2 separate regions of the Homo sapiens genome follow, and region 1 is linked to region 2. Evidence: fine-mapped expression QTL. A gene starts in region 2. The other region holds a variant in brackets. All regions are shown on one strand. Distances are between the middles of the regions.

Evidence for each region. PIP is the estimated chance that this variant, and not a neighbour inherited with it, causes the effect.
Region 1: its variant is fine-mapped to the expression of NHS in whole blood (TOPMed, PIP above 0.99). The same link has a PIP of 0.9 or more in blood mononuclear cells and monocytes.

The regions. Positions count from the first base shown.
Region 1 is chrX:17,523,621-17,534,617 of GRCh38, forward strand. The region is part of intron 1 of NHS (NHS actin remodeling regulator); the gene reads left to right. It overlaps LOC101928389 (a long non-coding RNA gene), which reads left to right and starts at 4,815. Exons shown (of 2, transcript NR_135631.1): 1 at 4,815-5,138. The variant A/G (reference allele first, on the strand shown) is at 4,747.
Region 2 is chrX:17,369,816-17,380,812 of GRCh38, forward strand. It overlaps NHS (NHS actin remodeling regulator), which reads left to right and starts at 5,385. Exons shown (of 9, transcript NM_001291867.2): 1 at 5,385-6,507. The coding sequence starts at 5,943.

The DNA of each region.
Region 1 (10,997 bases), 150 kb after region 2:
GAAGAGGGAAAACAGATAGGGCGGCATCCAGTAAATACCCCAAAAGCTCATCTTGGAACCTGTGAGTCCCTGCTTGTGTTTCTTGGCTTCCCAGGTCCCTCACACCTCAATAAAAGCCCAGTCTTGTCTTTCTCTCCCAACAGTGCCGGCAAAAGAAATAAGACCTCCAACCACCACAGTGGAAAACCTGCAGGAAGAAAATGTTCATAAAGAGTTGAACCATGGCCCGAAGTGGTTTTGGTTTTCTTTCAAGGCCTGCAGCATCCTGGAGTGCCAGGGGCCTGTGGTCACAAAAGCTTCATCTCAAAAGAAGCTAAGAGGGGGTCCATTCTGGGGAATACTCTGGACAGTGCTATGAAGGGCAGCTGGGAAGAGAGCTGGCTCTCTGCTGCATATTGACTACTCGGGGGTACAATTTTGTCTTGCCCTTACCCTTATCCACCCATAGCAAGCTCCGCATTTGGTGATGTTTGCTTGTTTCACTTTTTATTTTGAAATAATTAAAACTTACAGGACAGGTGCAAGAATAGTGTAAATAACTCTTGTATACCTTTATCTAGATTCACTAATTGTTCATATTTTGTTGCATTTATCCCTTCTCTCCCCCACACTAATTCATGTTCATATATATGTGAATTTTTTTGCTGAACCATTTAGGAGTAGGCAGCTGTCATCAAACTCCCTTTACCCCTTGCATTTCCCAAGAATGAGAATATTCTCTTGTATATGTACAGCTATCAAATTTAGAAAATATAATATTTATTTCATACTTTTATGTAACCTGTGTCCCAATAATGCCCTTTATCACAATTTTCTTAAGGTTCACAATCTAGTCCTGGATCCCACATTGCATTTAGTTGTCCTGTCTCTTTTGTCCCCGTTAATCAAGAACAGTTCATAACTCTTCCTTTGTCTTCAGTGGCCTTGACATTTTTGAAGAATACCAGCCAGTTGTTTTATAGAATGTTCCTTAATTTTGGTTTCTCTGATGTTTCTTCACATTTACATTTGGATTTAGGCATTTTTCAGTTGGAATGCTATATAGGCATGTAAGTGATTTGTTCTCTGGGGACCATATCAGGAGGCACAGATGTCCATTTGGCCCTTGTTGGTGAGGTCACATTTGATTAGTTAAGCTGGTGTCTGTGTAGCTGTTCTTTTTCCTTTTGTAATGAACAAATATAATTTGTTGGAAGATATTTTGACATTATGTAAATATCCCATTCCTCATCAAACTCTCTCCACCTAGCTTTAGCATTCATTGAGGATTCTTGCCTGGATAATGATTTACTCTAATGGTTTCATCCATCATCCCTTCTATATTTGTTAGTCCAAAATAGTCTTTGATTGGGTGGGAAGGCATACTAAGCCTGCCGATCTTAGTAGCTGAGCTCACAGGGAGGAAGGGCCTTGATTTCCTCCTTGGACTCTGACTGACAGCTCTTTTGAAGCAGTCCTGTTCTGTTGGGTGTATGTTTTGACACATGTAGTAACTCATTTTGGAAATACTTATTTTTTACTAGATAACTTTCAAATAAGTTTTTAAATACTTTACAAAAAAATGGTAGGATGTTGGTTGCATATGTTATCATTTATTTTTGTGGCATCTGCTGGAAAATTGCACCTGGTTCTTTTACACAGTGTTGATCAACAGAAACCTGATCATGATGATAGCAATAATAATATCTTCTCACCATCTGAACCCTGCTCCAGAGAAAGGGATGAAATTAGAGAGATTGTTTGAATTCTGAGAAGGATGGTTGGACTAAAAAGGAAAACCAGCTATTGGAAGCAGATGAATTAAGTAAAACATGAATTTCCAGGAATGTTTCAAAATACTTGTGTGGGAGTTCTTTTTGGAATGTTAAAGCAGTGAATGGCATTGCTTGGAATTTTGTTTTTTTCTTTATTGATTTTGGTTCAAAACGAATCCTTAATCAGTTTCTAGCCAGTTCATTTTTGTCTATTTTTTGCAGCAATTTACTGTTTTGTTTTTGTTTTCTTTTTTCTTTCTTTTCTTTTTTTTTTTTTTTTTTTTTACTACAGTGGAAGGGGTTTTTATGGGAGAAACCTCTGATTATTGTTTTAGTGGGCCTAGAATATTAAGTTCTTGGTTTTGATTTTTGTCTTTTTAAATAGCTCTTTATAGCCCATAGTAAGAACAAAGGACTAATGGGGGATGTTTGGGAGGTTTCTCAGCTCTTATATGTTGTTATAACACTGGTTGTTACAGTTGCCATTAAGGTTAATGTTTTCAGAACAGCACCAAAAGCTATAAGCGGACATGAAGGAAAAGCAGCTGTTTTTCATAAAACTTACAGATGAACCAATGCTAGTTACTCCTGTGATGAGTGATCTAGAGCAGCCTTTCCCTAGTGTGTGTGTTCCTTGGAATGTGCATGTGTGTATACACACAGAAGAGAGAAAAGGGAGAGTTAAGTTCATGGTCAAAGAAGTTTCAAAAACATTGCATATTGTAACTCCATATTGGAGAATCACAAGGTTAAAAGAGTATAGTTAATGCTTTGAATGTTACACCTTTGCTAGAAAACAAACTACCCCAAAATTTAGTGGCGCTGAACAACAAACATATATCTTAGTCTGTGGTTGAGCTCAGTGGTTGTTCCAGTCTGGGCTAGGCCAGGCCAGGTGGTTGTAGCTGGGCTAGCGCATGTGTCCACAATCAGTGATAGGTCAGCTGAGGCCTAGCTGATCTAGATTGGCCTCATCTGGGATGTTCCCCCTGGCAGTGTCCTCTTATCGTCTAGCAGGCCAGCCTGGGCTTGTTCATATGGTGATCACGGAATTCTGAGCATGCGAGCAGAAGTGCGCAAGGCCTTTCGAGATCCAGGCTTGGAACTCAGACAGTGCCACTTCTGAATTGCATTGGCCAAAGCAAGTCACAGAACCAAACCCAGATTCAAGGGTTTGAGAAATAGACTCCACCTCTCGATGGGAGGGCTTACAAGGTCTCATTGCAAATGGATGGGGAGATACCGAAAGGGGAATGATTGCAGCCATTTTGACAATCTAGCAGAGAGATCAACTAATACGTGACTGGCTATTATTTCTATGCGCATTTCTGGGTTTGGGAGAATTTGTAGGGGAGGAGGAAAAGAGATACAGATCATTTATAATTGCAGAAAGTAAAAATAAGACTTCAGTTGAGATTTAATGAGCTAATCTATTTCAAGTGCTTTGAACTCGCATGTAGTAAGAGCTCTATAAATGTTGCTGTTATTATTATCATGAATGCATATGTCACTTGAGGTCCTCAACCTCACTTAGAAGTGAAGCAGGAAGATTCATTTGACAACAAAATGAACAAAACTTCAGATACTTGTGCAAAACATATAATCAAGTGAAGGAATTTAAATAAAATACCCCCAGCAAAAATAGTCTGGAGCACAGAACAGACATTTTCCTCTGGGGGTTGAAGGTGGGAAGATGTGTCCAGTTTTGCCTTCTGTGACCAGTTCACCCTGTTGGGCTTGTTTCCAAGGTAAGGTCAGAGCTTGCCGGGTTCTTGCTAAACTGGAGTCTGTAATAAAGAGGGTACCCAGGTGTGAAGAGTTTTATGTTCTCAGGACTTGTTCTTTGTTTATTTAGTTAGCCTTTATTAAGTGCATTGGAGCCTTGGAGGGCTCTGCAGTGGCTTTTGTTGCATGATAAAGGTGGCACATAGCTTTTCTTTGGCTGACTTGGGCTCCCAAGTGAAAAAGGCAGAGAGGGCCCTGCCAGCTTCCCTGGCTCTGCCCCTTCAGGGCATTTCAGGGAGCAGTCCAGTGACTGACGCCAAATGCCCTTGAGCACTGTGCCAGCCCTCTTGACTGGAAGCTGGGGAAGGAAACTTTCTCAGGCCCTCTCTCTCTTTGCTTCTATTTCCCCTTTCATTTTGTGGTCTGAGCAGCCCCCGCCCCTCCTTGCGTAAACCCCTCTGCAGTTAGCATCAACAAATCCCAAGTTGTTTGTATGTGTGTCTAAAAGAAAAATTCTCTGAGGATTAGAAGCAGACACAATAGAGGGAGTGCTCCCTTTTGCTTTAATCACTTCAGGCTCCTACGTGTTGACAGGAAGTTTTGTTAGTATCCAAGTTTAAGGAAAGGAGCATTCAGGGGTGGCATTTTTTTTCCTGCGTTGAATTCTTAAAGTAAGTTTGATAAGATATCTGGTAAACTACAAGCCGCTCCCTTTTTAAATAGGCTTCACTGCCCCCTTGGCCTGCCTGTAAAAGCGCTGCTCCCTTCAAAGGGACCCATAATCACGCCGAGTCTGTGGGTTGCACGACTATACCCACTGTCTTATCTGCAAGTTGAGTTTGATCTTCCTGGCTGAAACCTGTGAGATGTTCCTTTATGTCTCCACATTCTTTTCTTCCCTTTCTGCTCCCAACCCCACCCCCAAATTAATTGGTGTCTGGTGACTTTTTCTACCGCTTCCTCTTGTTTTCTGTGGCTTTTGTCTAGGGCAGTGGGGGAGGGTGATTCTTCCCTCACCCCCAGGGGACATGTGGCAATGTCTGGAGACATTTTTGGTTGCCACAACTGGAGAAAAGGGGCATCTGGTGAGGAGAAGTGAAGGATGCTGCTAAACCTCCTACAATGCACAGTGCAGCCCCCACAGCAGAGAATGATCCAGCCTCAAATGTCACCAGTGCCACCACAAGGAGCCCCTGATCTAGCAGGTTGCTTTCTGGTAGGGTGCTCCTGCTTCTGATATGGCTCCTCCCTCTCTCTCTTCTTCCTC[A/G]AGAGGACTGTTCTTGTGTCTAGTATTGGTTACATCACCCCTGCCCTTAAATAACTAAACTCACAGAAGGAGAAAATTTTTCCTTAAGGATGCTACTGACTCTGGAATCCTTGAGTTACATGTGAATAACTGGGTCGTGCATGTCAGCATTAAGAAATAATCACAGAACTCCTGATTCTGGTTTGCTCTGGGTGGCAGCTGTGCTGGGTTTACCAATGGAGGAACTTCATGGCTGCTCATCTTTGACTCTTTTTCTGAGGAACCAAATCTCTCTGGGAGTGCTGGCTAACTCACCCCTTCTTCAAACACGCTGTGTGGCTTCAGGATATGGCTGCTGGCTTTAAAAAAGAAGGAAAAATAAATTAAGACACCCACACTGCAAGACAACCCCTGTGAGTATATGTTATACTGGGAATGCCCCATTTCTCAAATATTTATAAATATATGGTCTCTTGGAGTGTTCTAGGTCTGTCATTTGGGAAGGTTAGACAGCCCTGGGCCACTATCCTTTTTCGTAAGCACAGGGCACTTTCACAAATACCAGATTGACAGCTGGGTGATGCCAAGGGAATGGTGATGTGTTGCCCTGTGTATATCTGGGATGTGTTAGACATCCCTCCCTTCCTTCTTTTTCTTTGTTTTCCCTCCCTCCTTCCCTTCTTCCCTTCCTTCTTTCTTTTTTCTTCCTCCCTCCTTCCCTTCTTCCCCTCCTTTCTTTCCAAGCACATCAGTGAGAATGTAGCACAGCTTGGTTTTCTGAAGTCCGTCAACTACTGTGTACTGCTTGTCAAGAAGGGTGCTATATAAGCTGAAATGCTGCTCTAAATTTCACATTATCCCTTCCTGCTGCTCATTGAGTTATTTAATTAGAAGCTGCCATATTTTCTAGGGAAAACACTTTGAACAGAAGGCCTGATTTCACTGAGAATGGATGCCTTTATTATGTGTCAAGGAGCTAAAAATTGCTAGTAAGATGTCAGTGTGTATATGTATATGAAATACAGAAAAGTGCATGTACATATATGAAGAGCAATCAAAAGAGAAATGCGAAGGGGTTGGAAAATGAAGAGGTGTCAGATCCAGTCGATGATTTGGTTCCTGCTCAGGAGTGTGTAAGCTTCAGTTGGCTCCAGTTTGGCTAACACTGCAATGCCTTTAGTGTCACTGAAGCCGACAAAGAAAGCTGACGCGTTGTTTTTCTAGGGGGAAAAAAAATGCTCTCCTTCCACATTCCCAGTGCAGACAACAGCAGAAAACAGAAATGAGACCGTACTGCCCAGAGTCCACACAGACTCCAACTCAAAGTCTTTGAATTATGTATTCAATTCTTGCCACTTTGCACATTTTCCCTTAAAGAAAAGAGAAAAAAATCAGTTCATAGTAGCTCTTAAAAAGCATGGAGGGGCATTCAGGATTCAATTCATCCTGAGAGGCAGATTTTAAGTTTCATTCTTAGAAGGAGATTTCGTGTTTAGGGTATGACAGTGTGGAGTTCATAGGAAGGGATGTCAGCTAAAACCAACTGCATCCTGTCTTTTGAGTTTGTTTTACCTTTGGTGTCCCCTGTTGACATGTGCCTTTCACTTCGCTTGGAGACTCTCTGGATGTGCAGGCTGCTTCATGTCCTTTAGGCTCTTCTGTGGCAGCCAAGGGGGTTTCCTTTTTTCTTCCCTCTATTTCTGGGCCACAGAGAGGAAAGAACAAAGATGCTTTCCCTGCACTGACTCCAAGTTGAAGCTAGTCAAACTCCCCTCTGAAAGGGGTTAATCATTTTAAAATAGCTCGAGAATAACTTGAAAGTGACTTTCAGTGAACGTGTCCAGAGATCTCTGGATTTAAATCCCCTCCCCTCCTCTCCCTCTCCAGCCAGGTCACCGGATGGGAATGGCTTATTTCTATCTGCCATTAGGTTTTTCAGCCCTGCCGAGAGAGACGCCAGTGCTGGACTTTAATGTGGAGGAAATTCAGTTAAGGAGCATGACATTTCTCAGGTTTCTGGAGAGATGGATGTTTTGGCTTATGTTGAGTGCTACCGACCCCATTTGTCACCAGCAAGCAGGTGGATAGTCCCTTAACCTCTCAGAATGGGGTGAAGGGATGATTTGGACCCTTGCTACTCAAAGTGTGGTCCTTGGACTAGCAGTATCGTCTCCCCTGGGAGCTGGTTAGAGATGCAGAATCAGGGCTCCACTGCTGACCGACTGAATCTGAATTTGCTGTTTAACATGATCCCCAGGTGATTCAGACGCACATTAATGTTTCAGAAGCGCTGGTCCAGGGCAGTGGTTATCAAATTTGAGCATATATTGGAATTTGTTTCAACAATCCTATTAAAACACAGATTGCTCAGCCTTACTCTCAGAGTTTTGAATCTATCAGGTTTGGGTCAGGGCCAGAGAATCTGCATTTCATCCTTTTTTCTTTTTTTTTCAGACAAGGTCTCACTCTGCCGCCCAGGTTTGGGTACCGTGGCACAATCATAGCTCACTGCAGCCTCAAATTCCTAGGCTGGTCTTGAACTGCTGGCCTCAAGTGATTCCCCTGCCTCAACCTCCCAAAGTGCTGGAATTTCAGGCGGGAGCCACCCTGCCAGCCAAATCTGCATTTCAAACAGGTTCCCTGGTGATGCCCATGCTTCTGGTGAGGTGGAGGAGCACACATTGGGAATAGCTGCTCTCGAGGAACCCTGGCCCTTCTGGCAGCCTTTATTTCTCTCTCCATGGAAACCCTCGCACCAGCCAGGCTACCCTTGCCCCCTGCCTCATGCTTTTAATTCCCTTCCCCTTCCTCCTTTTGGAGAGGCCAGTACCTCCCCCTTATAAACCTCCCCCATTTCCTAGCTGTGAATCCAAACCCACACTTTCCTTTCCTGGCCACTCTGAGCTTTCTCATCCCCCTTCAGTGGCCCCCCAGTTCTTCCCCTGGTGCCCCAGCCTTCCCAGTTAGATTGCAAGCTGGAAGTGGGCCTCCCCCTCCCTCACTGTCCCCCTAATCCATCACCAGGATCATTCATTTCACTGCCCAGTGTCTCTCAGATCCCTCTTCTGCCCTCTACCCTAACTACCACCCCTGTGGTCTAAGCCCCATCTTCTCCTGCAGCTGTCTTTGGAGGTCTCCTTGTAGCCTCTCTTGCATTTGTCCAGTCTCTTTTCTACTATCAAGTCCAAGTGACCTATTCAAAGTTTCCCGCACCATTATTCCCCCCTCCTCCTCTGCCACTGCTTCAGCTCTTTCTGTGACACCATTGGTCGTAGCCTACAATCCTGAGCATGGCCCTGAAGGCCTCTAGGGTGGGCCCTGGCTATGCTTCTGTCTTTCTCTCTGCTGCCCTCCCTTGGCTTTGTGCTGCAGCCACGCTGGCCTATTTTCAGGCCCCCACAGGGCCTTTGCACAAGCTGAGGTGCTTTCTCCAGCCCCACCTCACCTGCTTAGTGCCTCAGCATCCTGCCAATGGCCCCTCAAGCTTCCCCAGGGAGGCTTTCTCTGACCTTCTCCAGCCAGTGAGATTCCTTTGTTGTTGACCCTCCTTCTTATCCTCATAGTGCTTTTTGCCCTATGCAGTTATATATCCAAAGTGTGACAATTGGATTAATGCGTGTCTCTCCTGCTAGACTGTAAGTTTCATGGAGTGAGGACCCATTCATTTGTGTTGATTCTTGTCTCCCCAGGAGCTGGTATCTAGAATGCACCCAACAAATATTTGTTGGTGAAGCCAGTGGGATCCTTTGCAGCTCCATGCAGTGGTTCACACCCCACATAGACTCCTAAAATATGACACTGGAAAATGAAAACTTTTTAAAATTGTTTTAAATATATAAGAATTCAGCTCTGAATGTCTAGATAATTGGTAGCATGAATTGGCCCTCGAGGTCAGGAAGACTTCTTTGCTCTGGTTTTAATTAGTGCAAAGCGGAAGCCATTTCTATGTAAATGAATCAATCCATCGAGGCACACTTCTTTAGCCCTGATTATATGCCAGGCACTGGACCGGAGCCCCAGGAAACAAAGATGAATGATATAGTCCCTGCCCTTGAAGGGAGGAAAAGCAGATGGCTGGTCCCTGGAGACCTTCCTAGCAGTAAAGAATTCAGTAACAGTATGGACGATGGCACCAGAAGTGTGCCTTGAGTTTCGTATCAACCTCAGTGCTCCCCTCACTGTGCATTTGAAGGCTTCCTCCTTTACAAAGACAAGAGCAAATTCAGAGAGCCTGAGACGTCACCATGAGATATGGTCTATAGAATGTCTCCCAGGAAGGGATGAGATCTTGGCCCTTCAGTGAAAATGCCAACATTATTGGAAGAAAGCCCAGACCAAGGCAGGGGCTAGGGCTGGGGTTCTGGAGTAAACTAACTGGCATATAATCAGGGCTAAAGAAGTGTGCCTCGATGGATTGATTCATTTACATAGAAATGGCTTCCGCTTTGCACTAACCTGGGTTCAAACCCTGGCCCGGCCACTTACTGGTGGGCAACTTGGGCCCTTTTCTTAACTTATCTGAGCCTTAGTTTCTCATCTATGAAATGGGTATAATAGCTTCTACCAGTAGAGCCATGGGGAGGAATAAATAAAATCCTGAGTGTGAGGCATTCAGCACAATGCCTGTAGTATAGAGATGCTGAATCTATTGTTATGATGAGTATTAGCTCTGCAGAGCAGGGCCTACCAAAGACCTACGTGGATTTTTCTATAATGAACAACAACCATCACCAGAAAAGGCCAGTAAGTTGCTGGCAAGTGTCTGCCCCGCCCACCACACAGGAGTGTGGGGGCAGCAAAGACATGGGAGAGGGCCAAAGCTCTTAGAGAAGTGAAAGTCATTGGCATGGCTCTATATGGAATCGTCTCCAGTGTGTGAGTCTGTGTGCTTAAGTCCTTTACAGATTTTTCGGCAACCTTTTTTTGTAAGGTTGCTCGTTGATTTTTATTTTTTTGAGTGAGACAGGGTTTTGCTCTGTCACCCAGGCTGGAGTGCGATGACACGATCATGGCTCACTGTAGCCTCGACCTCCCAGGCTCAAGTGATCCTCCTGCCTCAGCCTCCCAAGTAGCTGGGATTACAGGCATGCACCACCACGCCTGGCTAATTTTTGTATTTTTTCTATAGAGACAGGGTCTCTGTATGTTACCCAGGTCTTGAACTCCGGAGCTCAAGCAGTCCACCTGCCTCTGCTTCTCAAAGTGCTGGGATTACAGGTGTGAACCACTGGCCCTGGCCTTGTTGACTTTTAAAATTATGACTTTTAAAGCAATCAGGGAATAATCACTTTCAAGTACTGAGCACAAAGTGATGACTCCTGCTAGGAAGATGGACAGGGCTGGGGTCATAGGCATGGTCTTGGGTCTTGGAGAACTGAGTTTGCTTCCTGACACAGCCCTTTGGGTCCCATGACCTTGGGCAGCCCCCACAGCCTCTCTAAGTCTTGCTTTCATGGCCTGCACTATGAGGTTAATAGTAATGCCTATTCTGAGGGCTGTTTTGAAGATTACATGACATAAATACAGAAATGTCTAACACTATGTCCAATAAATTGTTGTTTCTCTTCTCTTGCCATTAATATGCACTTTTCTTGAGCAAAAGTCTTGTCAGCACTTAACAGAATTAATTACAAAACCTAATTAAGGGAGTCTATAAGTGTGATATTTTACTGTTTTCTCCCTTTTGATGATGAGTTCTCTAACCTACTGAGAGGAAGAAAGCCTTCTTCGGACTGTTGCCTGAAAGGTCATTGTGTGTGTGTGTGTGTGTGTGTGTGCATACACACGTGTGTCTACTCTCACATTAACACACTTTGCCCAGGATGCATTCATGATGCCCTGGCAGCCAGTGGGTCTTTGGAAGGAATTCATAGGATTGAGACTATGAGTTGATTTCATGAGCAGAAAATTGTATATTTTGATGAGAGAACATTAGAGAATGCCTCCTGAAGAAGAAGGTCACAAGGAGGCCAGTGTGGTTAGCGATGCCTGGGACATTGATTTTGGGAAGTAATGCCATGTTTTTCTTCCCCCAGGCCTATAGCTACCTTTGCTTAGCCAGCACACGCCCTCATGTTGGAGACCTAGGTGGCTCTTGGTGGATTTTTGTGTTGCTGTAGCTTTCCTGTTTTGAAAGTTAGGGACAAGAGCTCAGAAAGCAGCAATGTCTTCAAAGAGAGAAGTTAAAATTCTAGTTATGACTCTAATGACTCTAGTGGCCCCATAAATGGCAACTCCCCAGGGTCTATGGCTTCATGAGAGACCCTTGGCCA
Region 2 (10,997 bases):
CTCCTGGAGAATGGCCGTTTAGCTTTATTAGCACCCTATGCCCTAGAGACTGTGGTTCATCCTACCTAATTGAAGACTTTTCTTCATAGGAAATATATTAAAAATCTTCCACTTCCTCTTTATAAACTGAGCCCTGCCAAAGAGTGAAAATTATAAATCAGCTATTTTTTAAGAGAAAAAAACCAACATAATTTCCACATTATTTCTCCTACCGCCTGGTTTTCAGGGTTTTTAAAAGACTTGTTGGGAATGCCATTTAATGATTATAGTCAAAAGCACATTTTCTCCTGCAGCTGGTTGGAGGGTGTCTTAATTTTAGCCACTGTTTTGTTTTTAACCATGTAGCGCTGCCTCGTCTTGGCTTTGGTCTTTCCGTTTCTAACCTGTGAGAACCAGCGCCGAAGCTTGCGTTGTCTTTAGAATCCCTGCTCCAGTCTATGTTCCCCCAAGACAGTGTTAATCGCTCTGGGATTCTGAATAGCACTTAATTCTTATCTCTATTATAGCTTGCCTGGCGTTGCACTACAATTATTTGTTTACGTGTCTGTCTACCCCACTAGACAACACCCTTTGAGAGCAATGTTTATGTCTTCTTTCCTTTTATATCTCTGGCAGCTCACAGAGGCCTAAGCACCCAATAAATGTTTGCACTCAGTAAATGGAAGCATCCGGTCAATGTTTGTTACATCACCAAAGGAACGAATAAGTGAATGAAACTCCATTGTTGTTTGCTATCACCATCTGCTTTAATTCTGTCAGTTATTTTGAGTTACGTATTTGCAGTTCTGACTAAATCCAGATTTGGCATGTTTAAAATTATATTCAGTTGTAAAATGTGAGGCTAGGATTTTTGAAGATTAGAAAGAAGTAAGAATTTCTCCCACAGGAAACAATGTGAGTAATCAACAGTTCTCTGCAAAGGAAGATAAAAAGGCTGGTTGGCATAGTCTTTGTATTCACAGTCTTTGGCATTTTGGGAAAACCATTTTAATAGCATTATTTTTTCTGCCCATGTTTTCCTATCAATAAAATGCAGAGAGAAACCCCTGTCCTTCACACTTGATAGACTAAATGAAGATTTTTAAGGAAGAAAAGCACAAGCTGAAACAAGGGAAAACCTTCAATGGTAGTATATAGTCTTTTTTCTCCCTCGAAACTATACATATGGTAGTTATCAATATATGTGTAAATATATTTATGTGTATGGTGGATTAATATTTTGATGTATTAATGAATATGTTTCTCTCCCAGTGTTTCATGGGAATACCTGTACACAAAGCCACATTCAAAGTTCCTGAACTGGAAGAACTTGGACTTTAGAGTTGCAAAAAGTAAGCTATGAAGGCTTTGGACATCATAAACCACACATATGGAAGAATGCATGCTTCCTCATTCAAGATGGCATACCACCATGGGCTGTGAACTTCCTCCCATGAGCCAGCAAAACTAAAGGAAAGAGGGATTTGGGGACTCTCAGAGCTCAGCAACTAACATTAAACTTTGCAGAAACTCTTGGAAAGCCTGACAATGGTGGCCTCCTGGTGTGGGAGAGAGAGGAGTGAGTAACATCTTTCTGTGACCCTTCAGTCGGCTATGTGTATGAGCTCTTTCCATATGTTTTAAGGCTCTCTGAAGTTTATCCTTTATTTTTCCCTTAAGGTGTTGTTCTGTACTGTAACTTTATTTGTAAGTGCAGTTTAAGTGTAGTATAGCCATGAGCTCGAAAAAGTTTTCTGCTTCATTGTGAACCACATGACTCTCCAACGATTTCCCAAGAATGACAACCTCACCCTCCTCCACTCCTCACCACCCAATTTCAAATCTGCTCTTCTTCCTTCATGAGATATTATAACATTGCATTTTATGTACAAACTATATTTATTTACTTTCAAATTGTAGCCCTTCACCTATGTAAACTTGCTATAGTTTTCTATCTGTGAAATGGTTTAAGTAACTTAAGTTGGGATGGAATGCTCATAATTTTTTCCAATAAAATTAATGCAAATATTTTTTATTTAACAGGTTTTTACTTAGTGGCAGGACTTTTTAGGAGTAGATTACATTGATTAAATGAGGAATAGGTTCAATTAGGTGGAGGAAAAGACACTTCAGTCACTATAATTCAATGATTATGCTAATGTGCCCCGTGTATCTCCTGGCATTTCTTAGCCAAAAGAAATATTTTCAAGTATAAATAATGGTAGGATATTCAAATCAGAACATTTTTAGCGAAGAGTGTTTTAGGAATCTCTGCTTTGCCGCTTGTGAGGTTCTATAGGAAGCCTGACTAGGGTTCCGTGGAGGCATGAGGACAGCCAGGTTGAGGACAGTGGCGCTTCACGGTGCTCTCAATGCCAATCTTCAAGTTCAGCAAAGCCCTTCTTCCTTCTGGGCTGGAGCAGGCAAGAATGTAACTGTGGGGCGTGGTGACACAGACAGGATCTTTCATTCATTTTACAATGGCATACAGTTTATACTGACTAAACATTTGAATTTATGGGCGAATTGTGCTGGCCTTTGAGCTGCATGAATGACTGCTGGGAATTAGGCGATGGGGCCATTTAAAAATGTTTCCTTTCCCTTCTATTTTGGCTACAAGTGCACGGTAAATAAACATGTGTACATGAATAGTGGGGAGGCGGTGTGATTGGGAGAGATCAACACACACATAACAATCTGGTGTAACAATCAGGTGTAACAACCTGGCTTTAGAAAGCAACCTTGACTTCATCAGAACTTTTTGTGGGAAAATTTGGAGTAAAATGTCACAATTCAGGATTTAAACAAGAAAGACACAGCTCCCACGTATGCTGAAAACTCATCAGCTTAAGACTATTCACATGTCCTGTCAGGATTACATGTGTTGCTACCCTTTTTAAAATTTCAGTATTTTAGTTCTAGAAAGCAGGAATAAAACCCAAAAATGTGTGTAGGGGTGTGTGTGTGGGGGTAATTCACATGGGAGGGACTTGAGTTGGGAAAAGGGTAGGATGGGGCCAGCAGGCTGTCTTGAAGCTGCCTTCCCAAAGCTAGCAGTTTTTTATTTAGATGGTGTCACTAATGTAAAACAATCGTTACATTTTCTAAAGATACCTTTATTCATATCTTACAGAGGACTGGGAAAACATCAACCAACCATATCAATGAATATGATCATTTGTATTAGGTTTGGTTTTGGTGACTTTGAAGGAGGGTGTCTTTCTCCCCAAATAAAACAAAAACAAAAACAAAAACAAAAACAAAAACAAAAACGTAATGTGCTCTTGGAAAGGTCACTGGGGACCACCACCAAAGGAAGGGGAGGGGACAGCGAGAATGAAGGAGATCAAAAGCCAAAATTAAAGGTTTTTAAAATTTTAACCAAAGGGCTTTATTAGCACACAAGTCAGAGTCAAGGAGATTACAAAGAGGGCACTCCTTTTTGCATCCTTGAACTGTGCTTTGAATCATTTTGAAATCTCGGCTTGAATCTGAGCTGATCACTTGGGGGCAGACACTAAGGTAGCTGGCCTGTTTTTTAGCTTAATTACCCCCTTGAACCCTTTCTCTCCTGGGCCTTTGCCCTTCCTTTCTGATCACTTATTTTGGGAGCCCTGGAAGGAACTTGCCAATAATCTGAAACTCCCTTTAGGAGTGAGAGTCCCACACCACTTATTCATTGCCCCTGTCAATGCTCAGATGGGCCCGCTCCACTGGCACCCTTGCTATTAATAGGACAGTGCTAGGTAAGGGAGAGTGAGAGGCAGGGCAGCCTGTTGCCACAAGGCTTGCTAACCAGATGCCTTTAATATCCCTCATTGTTCTCCATGCTTCCATGTGTTTAGGGAGAAGTGTCTGGCTTGCCTACCCAGCAGAACTCATGTTCAGAATTTTGAACGTATTAAAAAGTCAAGCTCAATTTAAAAACAGCTAGCTCAACGCTTTTCAGATTTGTGAGATAAAAAACAAACCTTAAAAGACCTTGTTCCAAAATATTCTTTTCTTTCATTTTTTATTTGGAAACAAAACCAAATTTAAAGTTGCAAGAAATGTACAATGAACCCTGATATGCCCTTAACCTAGACTATTTTGAACATTTTGCCATATTTTGTTTTTTTCTCCCTTCATACATACACATCTTTATTATCATCATTCTTCTTCTTGTTGTTACTGAAACATTTATGTGTACTTTGCAGACATCATGGCCCTTTACCCCCAAAGCCTCAGCCTGGATCTTTTATGAACAAGGATATGTCCTTGCCGAAAATTTTGGTTTTTTTTTGTTTTTTTTTTTTTGTTTTGTAGAATAAGACAAGGGTCTGTTGAAGCCTTTAAAACCAAAGCGTGGGCCAGTCCAAAGTGCTGACTGTTGGAGCCTCCTCCCTCTCCCGCCTTTAGAGGGAGGAGAGGAGACACCACCGCAGGTCTGGAGGACTTTATTGTTGCCATAAAACATATTTTTTCCATGTTCTCTTTAGAAACACGAAAAGAGGCTGCATTCCCAAGATCTGGCTTGTGGCTTTAAAATAAAAAATATTTTTACAGTATACTTTTTGGAGGCATGAAAGCACGTGTTTTATTAACATTTCCCAAACTCTTTTTACTGACGGCATACAGCCTGCAGCCTGCTGCAATCGAAAATGCATGCCTTTTTAGAAATTATACCTTTCAGTTAACTGAAGGGGAAAACTTTCCCTTCTTCTGTAAATCATCATCTCTCTGATGGAGAACTTTAAAAATCCTGTGTATGATCAGCACAGTAGGGTGACGAGGAGGTAATGCCGTTTATCTCACCCAACGTGCAATGAGTTTCGTAAGCAGTTTTCTGGGGATTTTGCTCATTGGTGGTTTGGGTCTCATTCACGATATTCTATAGAGCCCGTGCCCAAAACAGGGGGCCACGTGATGCCTGGGAAGGGGTATAAACAGCACTCTGGCTGCTCTGGCCACATGGAGATGCGCCTACGCCCTTTGCCCTCCCCAGTTGTCTCCTTGCGTTCATAGAGCCCGGGGATCTCCAAGGAGCAGCCCAGTTTTCCCTGTAAGAACCCAAAGGTCTTGTACAGAGCTGGAATTCGGCGAAAAACTTGCTCCAACACGCCAAATCTGCCGCATCCTCAATACCCCACCCTCTTCCCTCTGCGCTTACTGCCCACACCCCTACTCCCAACTTGAGGACTCCCCGCCCCCACCACGCTGACAGTCTCAATTCCAACCCCTTGGATGTGAGGAAGTGTCTTTGCGCCTGAACGCGCCCAGCACGGCGAGGCCACCAGTGACTCCCAGCGGCCGCACAGGGCGCTGCGCCCCCCTCGCCCCGGCCTCCCCCGCCCTGCGTCCGCCCCGTCACCCCCGCGCGGCCTCCTGCGCCCGGGCTGGAGGCAGATTCCTCTCTCCGGGTTTTCAGAGCGCCTTTCCGAAACCTCCTCCCCGCCCAGCCAGGGAGAGAGATCCCGGGCGCAATCGCTCCCCGGAGCGGCCGAGGGGCGCGCGGGGAGAGGCCTGCGCCGGGGTACTTTCAAACTGAGGCGCGCGCACACACTCACACCCACCCACCCACTCACCCACACACACACAGACACACGCACGCCCATTTATATAGGCGGCGGCGACGGCAGTGGCCGGGGTGGCGACGGCGAGCACAGAAACGATGGAGTTGAGCCAGTCGACCCTGGTTGGAAGCAAGTGAGAAGAGACCAGGCGCACCCCTAAATTTCTGTGCGGAGCGCTTGTCATCCTCCCCAGGGAACGGTGCACCCAAAGGAGGACTGGCTGGACTGATTTGCTAGGGAGAGGGCGGGGAAGAGGAGGCAAGGTGAGCAGAGAAGCCCCCTGCGTATCCGGACTGCCAGATCGCGCTTTTGCCGGACTCCTGCCCCCTCCCTGCTCAGGTGGGCGCGCCCGGTCTCCAGCTCACAGGGGCGCTTGGAGGAGACCAGAAAGTCGCCGCCTGGCTGCGCGGGATGCCTTTCGCCAAGCGGATCGTGGAGCCGCAATGGCTGTGCAGGCAGCGGCGCCCTGCGCCCGGCCCAGCAGTGGACGCGAGCGGAGGCAGCGCTGAGCCGCCGCCGCCCTTGCAGCCGCCGGGCCGGAGGGACCTGGACGAGGTCGAGGCGCCAGGGCCAGAGGAGCCAGCCCGCGCCGTCCCTGCACCTTCAGGGCTGCCACCGCCGCCGCCGCCACTGCCCGCGCCGGCCGACCAGACTCAGCCGCCGCACGGAGAGGCGTCCGTGGCTGGCGAGGAGAGCACGGCGGGGATCCCGGAGGCGGCGCCCGCAGCCGGCGAGGCGTCCTCGGCGGCGGCGGCGGCGGCCGTGCTGCTCATGCTGGACCTATGCGCGGTCAGCAACGCCGCTCTGGCCCGTGTCCTCCGGCAGCTCTCGGACGTGGCCCGGCACGCTTGCAGCCTCTTCCAGGAGCTCGAGAGCGACATCCAGCTCACCCACCGCCGCGTCTGGGCGCTGCAGGGCAAGCTCGGCGGCGTGCAGCGCGTCCTCAGCACGCTTGACCCTAAGCAGGAGGCAGTGCGTGAGTACCCGCGCCGTCCGCCCGCCAGGCTATGGGTTTCTGCGCCGCACCCTCGCGCCCTCCCCAGCAGCGGCAATCCCAGCCCCGCGGCGCCGCTCCGGTTGCAGCTTGCACCTTACTACTCTCGCCTTCCCACCCTTCCCATCCCCTGGGACCCACCCCAATCCTCCTGGGGCTGAGTGGCTGGGCTGGACCCCGATTCAGTGATGCAGACGTGGACGGTGGAAAGTTAAAAGGGCGACCTCTGAAGTCGCAGGCAGCGTGGGCTGAGAAGGAGCAGAAAGGGAGCGTTTATGGGGAGCACAGGAGGCAGAGAGGGTCTGTCCTTCACCACCGGGGCTCGCCTTTCACGTCCTTCACGGGGCGTAGGGAGGAGGGTTGCAACTCCTGTGGTTTCCAGAAGCCCAGCCCTGAGCCCTGTAGCCCACACCATGCATGTTCAGGGTTGGGGGTTCCAGGAGTAGTGAGTGTTCTTTTGAGACTGCTGCAGCACCGCGGCTGTTTCGTCACTCGCTGTGACCTCAGGTGCTGCCCCGAGCTCCGAACTTGTGCCTTGCCCTCGTGTGCGACGTAGCGTGGCGCTGCTCGCCTCCTAGACTGAACTTCGTAGTGCTTCTGCCGAAAACCCTTGTGGCCCGGAGGGGCCGCGGGGAGGGTCAGGGAGAGATGAGGGTGGGAGTGTCAGGGGCCCCGGGGAGATGGAGGAGACCCCTGGGCATCTTTTCTGCTCTGAACAGCCCAGGGTTCCTACTAAATGGCTCTGTGCCATCTGCCCGCAGAGGATCCCACAGACTATCTTCCTCCTCCCCGGTGCACTGTCGCCCAAATTTACTGGCACGTGGACTTAGGTATGAACTAGTCTGCTAGGCGGGCTGCAGGGAAACGACGAGGAAGGAAGTCTGGGAGACCCCTGGGCGTCTTTGCTGTCCGTTGACTTCGCTTTTACGACACCCAAGGGCTCCCAATAAATAGTCATTCTATGTCATCTCCCTTCCAAGGGCGGTCCCCTTGGCTCCGGATCGTCCAAATCTGGCGACGGCAGAATCATTTAGGAACGACCCAGGAGGTAGACAGGGGCGCTGGGTTGGCGCGACGGTCCTTTGGCGCCTAGTCAGGCTGCGACGCTCGCGGCGAAGGTGATGTCAGCGGCTCTGACTTACGTAAGAAGCTTCCTAGGTTGCTGCCGCAGCTGCGCCGGTGCGCAGTGGCCTAGGAGCGCGCGGGGCGGAGGCGCTTTGGAGGCATCCTTCCCTGGGGATTTCCGGGCACCTCTGCCCCACAGCCCAGCTCAGCCTCCCAGCGGTCCCTGCCCGCCCGCGTGTTCTCTCCCTCTTCCCCTCCTCCTCCGAAAAACCCTTTGAACCCCGTCCCGGGAATTCACTGCTTTTCTGCAATAACAATAGTAATAAGCGTAATGAATAAATGATGTGCTCGATCGGTTTTCGCAGCTATAAAAGACCCGGAGTTGGGTTAATGACTGGTTGTTTAAAAGGGCAATTCCGGGGATGAGTTCTGGAAAGAATTAGGACTGCCGTAGGCCAAGTCGTATTTTACTTTTGGGACTTGAAATGAGCGCTTTAATCCTGCCTCCTTTTTACCCCAAACCACACAGCAGGGACAGGCCCTTCACTTTCAACAGCGCAGGTATCTGGGGAGTGCGGTTGTGGGAGTGGTGATTTCACTTCAAAAGAACTGGAGGGAAGTTTTGCAGACTGTTGAGTGGTGCATACATTTCCCGTGTGTGTGTGTGTGTGTGTGTGTGTGAGACACACCTCTCCTTAAGTTAGATTTCACGCGAATGAAACTCACTGCCAGAGCAGAATGTGCCCACTTCTTTCTCTCTTTAGATGCAGCAGTGGGCAGTTATGTACCTGGAACGTGTCAGAGTTCTTTCAAGTCCTTTTAACTGTTTGGGGTACAAACTAATAGTTAGTAGAGATAAGAGAGGATCTTGAGTGTGTGCATATAGTTGGTGAATATATACTCTATACATATTTGTACATGAATAATAAAGATGGGGCTGATTTCTACCTGGGATAGATTTAAAATCTCATATTATTTTAAATTTTATTTTCTAAAATGCTATCTCCACACTTTATGTCCAGATCTCTCTCTTCTCTTGTTCATTTAAATTTGGGATGGCATTGTTTTTGTTTGATGTCATAAAAGGCATTACCTTTGGGAGAAAAAACACACTATTATGTGTCTTGGTTTAGGTTTCCTAGAATGCAGAGCCTGAGACAAGGATTTCGATGCAATTAACTTATTTGGGAAGGGTTCCCTGGAAGCACAGAGAGGGGGTAGGGAAGTGAGACAGGAAAGGGAGGAAAGAGGAAAGCCAGTACACCATGTAAGCTGGTTAGCCCTGTGGGCAACTGGGGTTCAATCCAGCTGGCGACCCTCTGAGCACACACCTCAAATGTGTTCCACTAATGATTAAAGAAGCTGGAGTATTTATGCACCAGCTTCTTCTTCCCACAGATGGAAGGTAGCACCTGGAGCATGAACTCCATGGCTTCTGGGTCTTGCCCCACATGTAGTCCCAGCATGCACCCAGGGCCAGGTAGAGAGATGCAAAAAGCCTATGATGTGCACAGGAATGTTGACAGAGGTCCTCTGGGGAGGGCAAAGTAGCTGTGGGTCGGTCACTAGCGGCATCAGCTGCATTATGCATCTATCTCCCTTTAGTATTGCTCAGGCCTAGGGGAGTTTGAAAGGGAGAGGAAGCCTAAAAGTAAAACTTACTCTTTTTTCTCTTCCTTTGAGAGTGCCTTCACACCACCTGTATATCCTTGTCACCTGATCCTCATTCCCCTGCGTAATCTGCTTGCTATTTCATCCTTGGACAGCTGCTTCCTGTTGCCCTGAGACAGGCTGGGGGGCTTCTTGCAGGGGCAACATGATCTGATGTACACTTTGGAAGAGTCACTCTGGAAGCAAGTCTGGTGGCTAGTAAACCAGTTAGACACTGTGACTGGTGATGGTGGCTAGGACTAGGGAGGTAGCTGTAGAGACGGTGAGAAGTGGTTAGATTCTGAATGCATTTTGGAAATAGGATTGCCAAGACTTAACTGATTTGATTGGGTACAGGTTGTGGAAAAAAAAAATAATTTAGGATGACTCCTAGTTTGTTGTTTTTGCTTGAAAAGCTTAAATAACTTGTAGACTGTGGCTGGGCACGGTGGCTCACGCCTGTAATCCCAGCACTTTGGGAGGCCGAGGCGGGCAGATCGCCTGAGGTCAGGAGTTCGAGACCAGCCTGGCCAACATGGTGAAACCCCGTCTCTACTAAAAATACAAAAATTAGCCAGGCGTGGTGGCAGGCGCCTGTAATCCCAGCTACTTGGGAGGCTGAGGCAGGAGAAATGCTTGGATCCGGGAGGCAGAGGTTGCAGTTAGCCAAGATCGCGCCATTGCACTCCAGCGTGGGCAACAAGAGTGAGACTTCATCTCAAAATAATAGTAATAATAATAACTGGTAGAATGTATTACCATTTGTAGAAATGGGGAAGGCTAGTGGGAGAGTGAATATTTTCTTGTGGAGGGAATGGAATCAATAGTTTTATATTTGAGCCATGTTAAGTTTGAGATACCTGATGTGTCTTACATAATTACATGTGTGAGTTGAGAGGTCCAGGCTGGAGATGTGAATGTGAGACCTAAGCGTAGAGACAGTTTGTGAAGCCTTGGAGCTAGACACAGTGAAGCTAGTAAAGAAAAGGAGGCCAGGACTTAGCCCAGGGCAGTCCAACTTTGAAAGCTTCACAGGGAAGGAGAAAGGCTGAGAAAGGACAGCCAGAAAGCTAGAAGGAGAATCAGAAGAGTGTAGTATGGTGCAAGCCAGGAGATGTTTCCAGAACTGGGGAGAAGTCAACTTGGTCAAGTGCTTCTGAGAGGAAGATAAGCACTGAGAAGAGGCTATTGAGTTTGGTTACTTGTAATTAATTAGTGGCCTTGAGAGGTGCCATTTCATTGGAGGGGTGGAGATGAACGCCAAATCAGAGGTGTTGGAGAAAGAATAGGAGAGGTGGAGAGGAAATAGCAACTACAGAGAGCTTTTTTTTTTTTTTTCACTCTATCACCCAGACTGGGTACAGTGACTTGATCATGACTCACTGCAGCCTTGACCGCCCCAGGCTCCCATCTCGGCCCCCCAAGTAGCTAGGACTACAGGTGTGCACCACTACGCTAGGCTAATTTTGTTTTTTTTCATAGAGACAGGGTTTCGCCATGTTACCCGGGGTGGTCTCGAACTCTTGCGCTGAAGCAGTCCTCACGCCTCCCAAAGTGCTGGGATTACAGGCGTGAGCCACCGCACCCAGCTCTACAGACAACTCTTGTAAGGCGTTTCACTCTGAAGGGGAGTGGAGAAATGGAGCAGTGGCTGGAAGGGAATACAGTATCAAGGAAAAATGTCTTAAAAGGTATTGATATTTTAGGCATGTTCAGATTCCAAGAGAAGGGTGAATTGATGATCCTGGGGGAGAGAA